Linked DNA regions of Homo sapiens: region 1 is linked to region 2. Evidence: fine-mapped expression QTL. A gene starts in region 2. The other region holds a variant in brackets. All regions are shown on one strand. Distances are from middle to middle. Region 1 holds the start of CARNS1 (carnosine synthase 1). Region 2 holds the start of ANKRD13D (ankyrin repeat domain 13D).

Region 1 (4,372 bases), 130 kb before region 2:
CCAGCCCCTCCCGCCCCTGCCATGCTGGGCTCCGCCTTAGCTTGCTTCACAGCAGCAGAGTTTTCTGCTTGTTTTGTTCATGGAGGCAACCCCAGCACCTAAAGCGTGCCTGGCACACAGCCACTTCTCAGTAAGTGTTTGTTGACTGAAGAGTAGATGAATGAACGAACCCAGCCATCACTCTGAGGTGGCTTATTTCTGTCTCATGACCCGGCATGGAGTGTGCTGACACCTAAATGTGATTCCACTGTCATCCCCACGTAGGTCTTGAAGCCCTACTGTGTGCCCAGCCCTGGGCTAAACATTAGGAGGCTAGACAGTATCCCCCCTGCAGATATTTTGAGTCACGGAAATGCTTTCTTTGGATGAAACCTAACGTCCCTCCCCTCTCTGAGGCTGGCGCCCCCCCAATATGGGGCTGCTGGGAGGCTTCGTGTGAATGGAATTCTTGTTCTTTGCAGTCCCCAGGCCTGGACAGGCCTGGCAGCTGAGTCTGTCCTCCAGGGGACAGGCTCGGCCACCTTGAGCAAGTCGTGAGGTCTCTTTGGACCTTGTTGCCTGGTGCCTGCCCTCTCCCATCCCCTGGGGGCTGATGAGGCTGGGACGAAGAGAATCTCTTGGTTGTTGGGAGATGGTGTGCTGTGGCCCAGACGGCAGAGGACTGGGCCTCATGCCTGGGCTCGAATCCCAGTTTGCCAGGGCCAGAGCCTCTGTGCCGTCTCCTAGAAGGTGAGCTCCCTGAGGGGCCATGGAATGAATGAATGTCACAGGGCACTAAGAGTGCCCACCTCCCAGGATGCAGCCGCAGGGTGGGGGTGGGGGAGCTGGTCGTGGGTCTAAGCTGTCTGCAGGGGGCAACTCCCAGGCTTAGGTCCTAGGTGCTGCCTGCTGTCCTCTGGGCCCACTCTCTGCCCAGGGACTTGGGCCTTGTGGGGGAGGGACCACAGAAGACTCACCATCTCGTGGGTGGAGTGGCTGAGAGACTGATGGCAGAGACAGAGGGACAGAGAGACGAAGGAGTCAGGGCAGCCAAGTCCCTGCCTGGCCTTCCAGCCCCTAGACTTTGGGAGTGGAGAGGTGGCCGACACCTGTCCCTGCAGAGAGAGGCCAAGGCAGCCCCACCCCCACCCCGAAGGTAGGGAGGGATTTCTGCTGCCCAGACCGAGTGGCTCCTGCCCCAGTGCGGCTCACAGGTCCTTCCTGCCCTGGGGTCCGGGCTTGGCTCTGCCCCTCCAGCGCGGGGGGGAGTTGGGGGCACCGGGTCCCGGGGGTGGGGGGCGTAGCGTCGAGGGTCCCGCCGCGGGGAGCGGGCGCCCGGGGTCCTCGTCCCCGCGACTCCTGCCCCGGCCGCCCCCCTCCCTGGCTCTCCCCGGGGCGGGGCCGGAGCTGGGGTACCTGGCGGCGGCAGCGGCTCGGCGGGCGTGGCGGGCGGACTCGGACCGGGCGGGATGCAGCGGCGGCGGCGGTGGCAGTGGCACAGCGCCCGGCCCAAGCGGCGCCGCTTTATATAGAAACGCCTGGGGCATGCCCAGTGCCCAGCGGGGGCGGCGCGGGGCGGACGGACCGACAGGGACCGATAGGGACCCGCCGGGGACGCGCCCCCCCCCCCCCCCGCCCGTCAGCCACGAAAACGTCCCAGACCTGGGGGCGTGTGGCGGGACACGGACCCAGCAGGAGGAGGGCACGGAGCAGGCAGGGAGAGACGGGGGTCTTCAGAGACACAGAGGAAGTCCCGACAGAGGGCCAGGTACAGATGGACAGGGACTGTCGTCGAGGGTCACAGACGTAGGGCTGCCATGAAGAAAGAGGGAGGCCCACCATGGAGAAGAGATGGAAAGGAGGGGCGGGGAGAGCCGGAGCAGGCAGAGACTGGTACTAGGGCCCGCCCTTAGGGGTGGGGTGCCCGGGAGAGCAGCCTGGAGCACACAGCCCTGAGCCCTACCTTTGGATGGAGGCCGGAGGTCCCAGCCCTGCAGCTTTCTGTCCCAGCTGCCAGCGCTTTGCCCTATTGCACGTTCTCCCAGAGAGGCCCTCCTGGGCCAGGGTCTCCACACATCTGTGCAGCCCCCTCCTCACTTCTGGACCCAGTGGACTTGCACACAGGGGCCAGGATGTCTATAAGATCCAGCCTCTCCTGGTGCGGTGGCTGCCTATAATCCCAGCACTTTGGGAGCCTGAGGCAGGAGAATTGCTTGAACCCAGGAGTTTGTGACCAGCCTGGGCAACATAGCAAGACCCTGTCTCTATAAAAAAAAAAA[A/T]TTTAAACTAGCTGGTTGAGGTGGTGTGGGCCTGTAATCCCAGCTACTTGGGAGGCTGAGGTGGGAAGATCACATGAGCCCCGGGGGTCGAGACTGCAGTGAGTCCTGGTTGTGCCACTGCACTCCAGCCTGGGCAATACAGTGAGAGCCTATCTCTCTCGCTCGCTCCGCTTTTTTTTTTTTTTTTTTTTTTTTTGAGACAGAGTTTCAGTGTGTCGGCCCAGGCTGGAGTGCAGTGGTGTGATCTCAGCTCACTGCAACCTCTACCTCCCAGGTTCAAGTGATTCTCCTGCCTCAGCCTCCTGAGTGGCTGGGATTACAGGCACACGCCACCACGCCTGGCTAATTTTTGTGTGTTTAGTAGAGACAGGGTTTCGCCGTGTTGGCCAGGCTTGTCTTGAACTCCTGACCTCAGGTGCTCCTCCTGCTTCGGCCTCCCAATGTCCTGAGAATACAGGTGTAAGCCACTGTACCCAGCCGAGACCCTATCTCTCTCTCTTTTTTTTTTTTTTTTTTTTGACCCTATCCCTTTTTTTTTTTTTTTTTTTTTTAAGACAGAGTCTTACTCTGTCACCAGGCTGGAGTGCAGTGGCACAATCTTGGCTCACTGCAACCTCCGCCTCCCCGGGTCCAGTGATTCTCCTGCCTCAGCCTCCCAAGTAGCTGGGACTACAGGTGCGAGCCACCATGCCCAGCTACTTTTGTTTTGTTTTGTTTTGTTTTGTTTTTGAGATGGAGTTTCGCTCTTGTTGCCCAGGCTGGAGTAGCTGGGATTATAGGCATGCGCCACCATGACAGCTAATTTTGTATTTTTAGTAGAGACAGGGTTTCTCCATGTTGGTCAGGCTAGTCTCGAACTCCCGACCTCAGGTGATCTGCCCGCCTCAGCCTCCCAAAGTATTAGGATTACAGGCATGAGCTACCGCGCCCAGCCCACCCAGCTAATTTTTGTATTTTTAGTGGAGACGGGGTTTCATGATGTTGGCCAGGATGGTCGCAATCTCCTGACCTCATGATCTGGTCACCTTGGCCTCCCAAAGTGCTAGGATTACAGGTGTGAGCCACTGCACCTGGCCCCCCTATCTCTTTAAAAAAAAAAAAAAAGAAAGAAAAAAGAAGAGAAAAGAAAGGAAAAGAAATCTGCTCTGCTTATCAACACCCACCCAGGTCAACTTCACACCCGGAGTTGAAGCTATAATCTCCCCAAGACATACATACTCACACCCAAGTGTACCCACCCAACCACAGAAGCATACCCCAGGAGACCTGGGTCTCAGCCACAATTCACCCACAGAAGCACAACCAGAGATTCACCCCCTCTCCTGGAGTGTGTCCCACCAGTGGGTTTCAATCCTAGCTCTGGCTGTGGGACCTGGGCCCCTCCCCTTTGTGATCTGAAGCTCACTCTCCCCAGCCTAGAATGGGGCTGGTTTCCCTCTCCTAGGCAGGGCAGCCTATGGCTCTAACTCCTCCCTCTCACAGTCCCCAGTCAGCCCTTCTCCCTGCCTGTCTCGCAACTGGACACATATTGAGCCCTGGCTGTCCTTGAGAGCCTCCTGGCCTGGGGGAGAATACTGAGGGGCCCACACATGTCAGGGACAGAGATGACAGCTGTTGGACCCTTTCTGCAACTATATACAGGGCAGTCTGTGCAGACCCATCCCTGTCTACCACTGGAGAGGGTCGGCAGAGAGGGGAAATGGCTTCTCCAGGATGCCCAGTCCAGCCCACATTCCCCACACAACTTCCAGGCCCACGTGCAGCCCTCCCTACAGCTGGTCCAGGCTCCAGGAATGAGGAACCAGCCCCATTCTAGGCTGGGGAGAGTGAGCTTCAGATCACTAAGGGGAGGGGCCCAGGTCCCACAACCACCCCAGGAGACCCAATCGCTTGCCACCTGGGTGGCCTGAGCGCCCATGGGGTCCCACTGTGGGGCCTGGGCGTGATCCAAAGAGCATGAGCTTTGACATTTAACATTTAACAAGCTCTGCAGCCCTGGGGACTCAGTTTTCTCATCTTCAAATGGGGATACAGTGCACACTCAGCCCAGGCTTAACACTTCACATGCAAGGGAGCAATTATGAGACTGAGAGAGGTCGTGTGACTTGCCCAAG
Region 2 (4,372 bases):
TTTTTTGAGACTTGCTCTGTCACCCAGGCTGGAGTGTAGTGGTGCAATCTCGGCTCACTGCAACCTCTGCCTCCCTGGGCTCAGGTGATTCTTCCACCTCAGCCTCCCGAGTAGCTGGGACCACAGGTGTGTGCCACCACTCCCAGCTAATTTTTGTACTTTTTGTAGAGACGGCTTTCACCATGTTGCCCAGGCTGGTCTCCACCTCCTGGGCTCAAGTGATCCGCCCACTTTGGCCTCAGAAAGCGCTGGGATTACAGGAGTAAGCCACAACGCCTGGCCCTTCATCAAGTCTTGACGCACTGCTATGGCTCAGCTACGCCCAACCACTCTGCCCTGGAGAGGGTGGGCCAAGTGGGGCACTACAGTGGTCTTCAGACAATGAGGCTGTAAGCACCTGGAGGTGGAGGGCCAGCCTCAACCTGGCCATGAGCCTGTGCAGAGCCCTGGGGGAGCCTTTGTTTCCACTGGGTCTCAGAGTCCTACTCTGTAAAGGGGGCACAGTGGCTCCCTCCGAGCCTGCTCCTGGGGTAGGGGGTATGAGATAGTATGCTCTGCCAGCCAGGCCCCTCCGTGTGCTTCCAGAAGGGTGCGTAGTAGCAAGTATTCCAGGGTTTCAGGCCATAATCCACCGAGTCAACCTGAAGTCCCTGCTCCAGGTAATCTGCATTCTTCAGGAGGCCCAAAGCTGGCAAGGCTTCTCTTCCAAAGGGTCCAGTCTCTCCCACGTGAGCCTGGCCGTCTCTCTTTCCTACGTGACCCTGGGCTGGGGTCAAGATAGACAGACCTCCTTGCTGGTGGCAGGAGGCACACTGCACAAACTGGGTGCCTTTCCAAGGCCAGGCCTGGCACAGTAACCAGGGTGGTGCCCTGCCATGGTACCCCACCTCCATAACTGTGCCCTGCTGTACCTGGCGAAGTTTGTTGAGCAGTTCCGGAATGCCCGCCAGCCTCTGCGTGGCCCTCTGGTAGTCCCGATACTGGAGCACCAGCTGCACCATCTCGGGGTCTCCAGTGCTGACTGCCTCCTGCAGGACTGCGGGCACCAGGCTGCTGAGGGGAGCCCTCCAGATGACCCCAGGCCTGGCTGCTCACTGCCCCCCGCCTGCCAGCCTCAGGGGGAGCCCCTTGTCCTCTGCAGTACCTGCCCAGCCCTGGCGGTTCTCTTTGCCCACGTTGGCATTGTGTCGAAGGAGCACTCTCACAGACTCCAGGTTTCCCAGAGACACGGCCAGCTCCAGTGGGGTCCGCCCGCGGGGGTCCTCCTGTTCAATGTCGTGCTGGGGGAGACGGGACACTCACAAAGGGCAGGAGAGAAGAGGGCAAGGCAGGGAGGCTGCCAGGGCGAGCAGGGTTGGGAATCGCTGTGGGAAATAAGGACGGCGGACTGACCAGGGAGATGGCAGAGGGTGGCCTGCGTGTCCTGGCAGGGGAGAGGAGGGGGCAGGAGGGAAGGCAGGGGCAGAGCCGGGGTCTGGCGGCGGGGCCTGGTCAGGCAGAGCTGCAGGTTGTCAGGAGTTTGGCGGAACCTGGGGACCAGGACCAGAGTTCTTGTTCTCAGCTTGGGTCAGCAAGGATGCGGAAGCGAGTTCGGGCGAGCAGGGCAAGGCCCAGCGCAGGGGAGAGGAGGCCAGAGGCTCAGGCGCGAGGGGCCGGTGACCTGGGCTTGGGATCGTGCAGGGGAGGAAGGCCCAGGATGTGGCTGCGGAGCTGAGCGGGCGGGGGGGGGGGGGGGGCTCCAGGACGGAGGCCACAGCCTTGGGTGGGGGACCCGGGGGAAGGGCCGGGTGCCCCAGCGGGGCCTCACCTGGTGGCTGTGCAGTGCGGCCTCCAGTTCGCGATGCCGGTTCGCCCAGACGAGCCGGTGCAGCGGGAAGGTGGGGCCCGGGCCGGCCATGCTGGGCCTCAGCGCCGCATCCCGGCCCCGCCTCGGCTTCGGGCCTGGCACGGCCCCCTAGCCTCCCCTCCGAGCCGCGCCCCAGCTGCGCCCCCCGCGGCCCCCGCAGCAGTAGCGGCGGCGGCGGCGGCGGCGGCAGCGCGGGCGGCAGGGAGGGCGGGGCGGGCGGCGGAGCGGGCGGGGCTGCGCCGGGCCGGGGCGGGGCTTCGCGCGCGCCCCCGTCCCCCCGCAACCATGGCAACCGCGGCCAGGCCAGCGCGCGGCAGAGCAACCGCGAGCGCCCGAGGAGATGCCCGGCCTTGGGTCTGCGCCCCGACCTCGGTCGGGCCCGGGTCCGCTGGGGCGGCCTGGAGGGCGGTGCCCGGTTACAGCTCCGCCCGCGGCCCGCAGGAGGCGCCCCGAGCCCTGCGCAGACCCCCGGAGCCGGGTCCGGAAGAGGAAGGCGGGGCCGGAGGGGGCGGGCACTGGGCCCCTCGGTAGTGCACGCGCGTGCGCGGCGGGCCGCGGTCCTGCTGCAGCCGTGATGCCTGCGTTTCCCCCGCGGATCCCCTTGCTCGCCCCGGTCTTCCTACCCCAGGTCCCGCGGTCACCGACTCTGCTGGGGTGTGCGGGTGAAGTGGGGCGCCCCGGCTCCCCTCACCCGGCCTGGAGACGAGCAACGAGCAGACGCCACTAAGTGCTTGCCGGCTGAGCGGGAAGCACCTTCCCCTGGGACCTGGCCGGTGTCTGCAGGCCCAGCGATGCGGGGAGGCGGCCCCCGGGGCCCTGAAGTCAGGGATAGGAGTTCGGGGAGAGAGGGGCGCAGGCCCAGGCAGCGGCAGAGCCGTCCCGGCGGAGGACCGCCCGCGGCGAACGGCTGCCTTCGCCCGCCGCACGAGTCCCTTTTGCAGAGGCTGCGGTTGGCTGCCAGCGTCAGGAGAGGAAGGCGAGTTTCGAAATCAGGGCCGGCCCCTCCACCCACACCGGAACTAGGGTGCAGGCCTCCGTCAGCTCAGTTCCGGCCCTTGATTACTGGAGGCCCAGCCTGGGGTCTGGGGCCCTGGTTTTGCTAGGTGGCCAAGGCTGACCCTCTATTCTCCCTTTCCCTACGTGGAACATGATTGAGGAGGGCCAGCTAGCTTGAGCATCACTTCCTGCTGTAGGGCGTCCTCAGTTCTGAGACTCTGGGCTGGAAGGCCTGATTGCCATTTTTACCCTGCCTTCTCCCTGTAGTCACATGGCGCCTGTGCCATCTGGGGTCACTTTGCCACCCCACGCTATGGTGTCAATCTGTGAGGTCCTGGGGTTGGTAGCAGCCCGAAGGCTTCTGAATGCCCAGAGCTCACCTGCTCACCACTACTGCAGCCCTCCCTGGCCACCCCTTTTCTCAGAGGCGGTCCCTTCCCTGAGCCCTCTCCAAACTCAACCCCGACAGGACTTTCTTGGTTCCAGCCTCTCCTGATTTCTGCCATCTTGAACACAGCTCCCCACTGGCACTTAATTCCATGACAGTGCCTTCTCAACCCTCTTCCACGGCCTCCTCTCTCTCCCTGACCCCCACATCCCTGGGAGAGAGACTGTCCGTTCCCATTGTCACCCTGATGCCACCCCCAGGTCCACATTTCAGCTTACTCCAGGACATCTCTGTGCCCAGGGATCCCATGCTATCCCATCAGTATGTCCGAAGCCAACCCAACCACACCTACCCTCTTCCCCAGACTCCCGCCTCACTCAGCCCCAAGTCCAGCCTGTTTCTGCTGGACCACGTTCTTCCCGTCTGGCCTCTTTTCATCTCTTCCTCTCCCACTGCGGAGGTTTGTCTCCCTGCCTCCTGTCCTTCACCTCCCTCCCCACATCCTGTACTCAGTAACCAGGCAATCACTTTAGAGCCAGCTCTCACCACTCTCAGCCCTGTTCCGCACCTTCAAGGGCTCCCTGAGCATGGCAGGTCTGGACTCCATGTCGTTTGTATCTTCATTCTGCAGGCCCTGAGCACACACCTGGCTCCGGGATAGGTTAAGCCTGGCATTCAGTGCCTCCAGGCATGGCTCCTTCCTATAGTCCTCCGGCCAGCCTGGGCCACTCATGAGTCCCTGGCTCTTCCCTGCCTCAGAAATGTCCTCCCTCCTTCCCACACCAATGCTGGAGGCCTGGCTCAAAGGCCATTGCCCCTGACTCTTGTATTCAGCCCTGAGTACCCTGCCCAGCTGCCTGCCTCCCTTCTCTGCCTGGCATGCTGTGCTTTGGCCATGGGCCCCAGCCATGCCCAGCAAAGCCCTGTGTGGAGTGGGCAGCAACATGTATCTGTTTAGTCACCCGCGGGGCTAGGGCAGGGACCTGGGGAAAGGGAAGTTGACCAGAAGCCTCTGGGTAGAGGAGAGGCCTAGTGCTGGGGTTCCCCTCAGGCCTCAGGGACCCCTACTAGGGCTGTGCAGTGAGGCCAGAGAGGAGGCTGAAGCCAGAGATGGCCAAGGGCCCAGAGGCTGCGGTGTGACC

The links. PIP is the estimated chance that this variant, and not a neighbour inherited with it, causes the effect.
Region 1: its variant is fine-mapped to the expression of ANKRD13D in whole blood (TOPMed, PIP above 0.99).

The regions. Positions count from the first base shown.
Region 1 is chr11:67,412,787-67,417,158 of GRCh38, reverse strand. It overlaps CARNS1 (carnosine synthase 1), which reads right to left and starts at 1,481. Exons shown (of 10, transcript NM_001166222.2): 1 at 1,396-1,481; 2 at 957-983. The coding sequence starts at 959. RefSeq lists enhancers at 1-743, 4,116-4,372. The variant A/T (reference allele first, on the strand shown) is at 2,259.
Region 2 is chr11:67,286,986-67,291,357 of GRCh38, reverse strand. It overlaps ANKRD13D (ankyrin repeat domain 13D), which reads right to left and starts at 2,055. Exons shown (of 15, transcript NM_207354.3): 1 at 1,808-2,055; 2 at 1,145-1,280; 3 at 912-1,036. The coding sequence starts at 1,897. RefSeq lists enhancers at 1-780, 781-1,705, 2,940-3,149, 3,900-4,149 and silencers at 1,700-2,469, 2,650-2,719.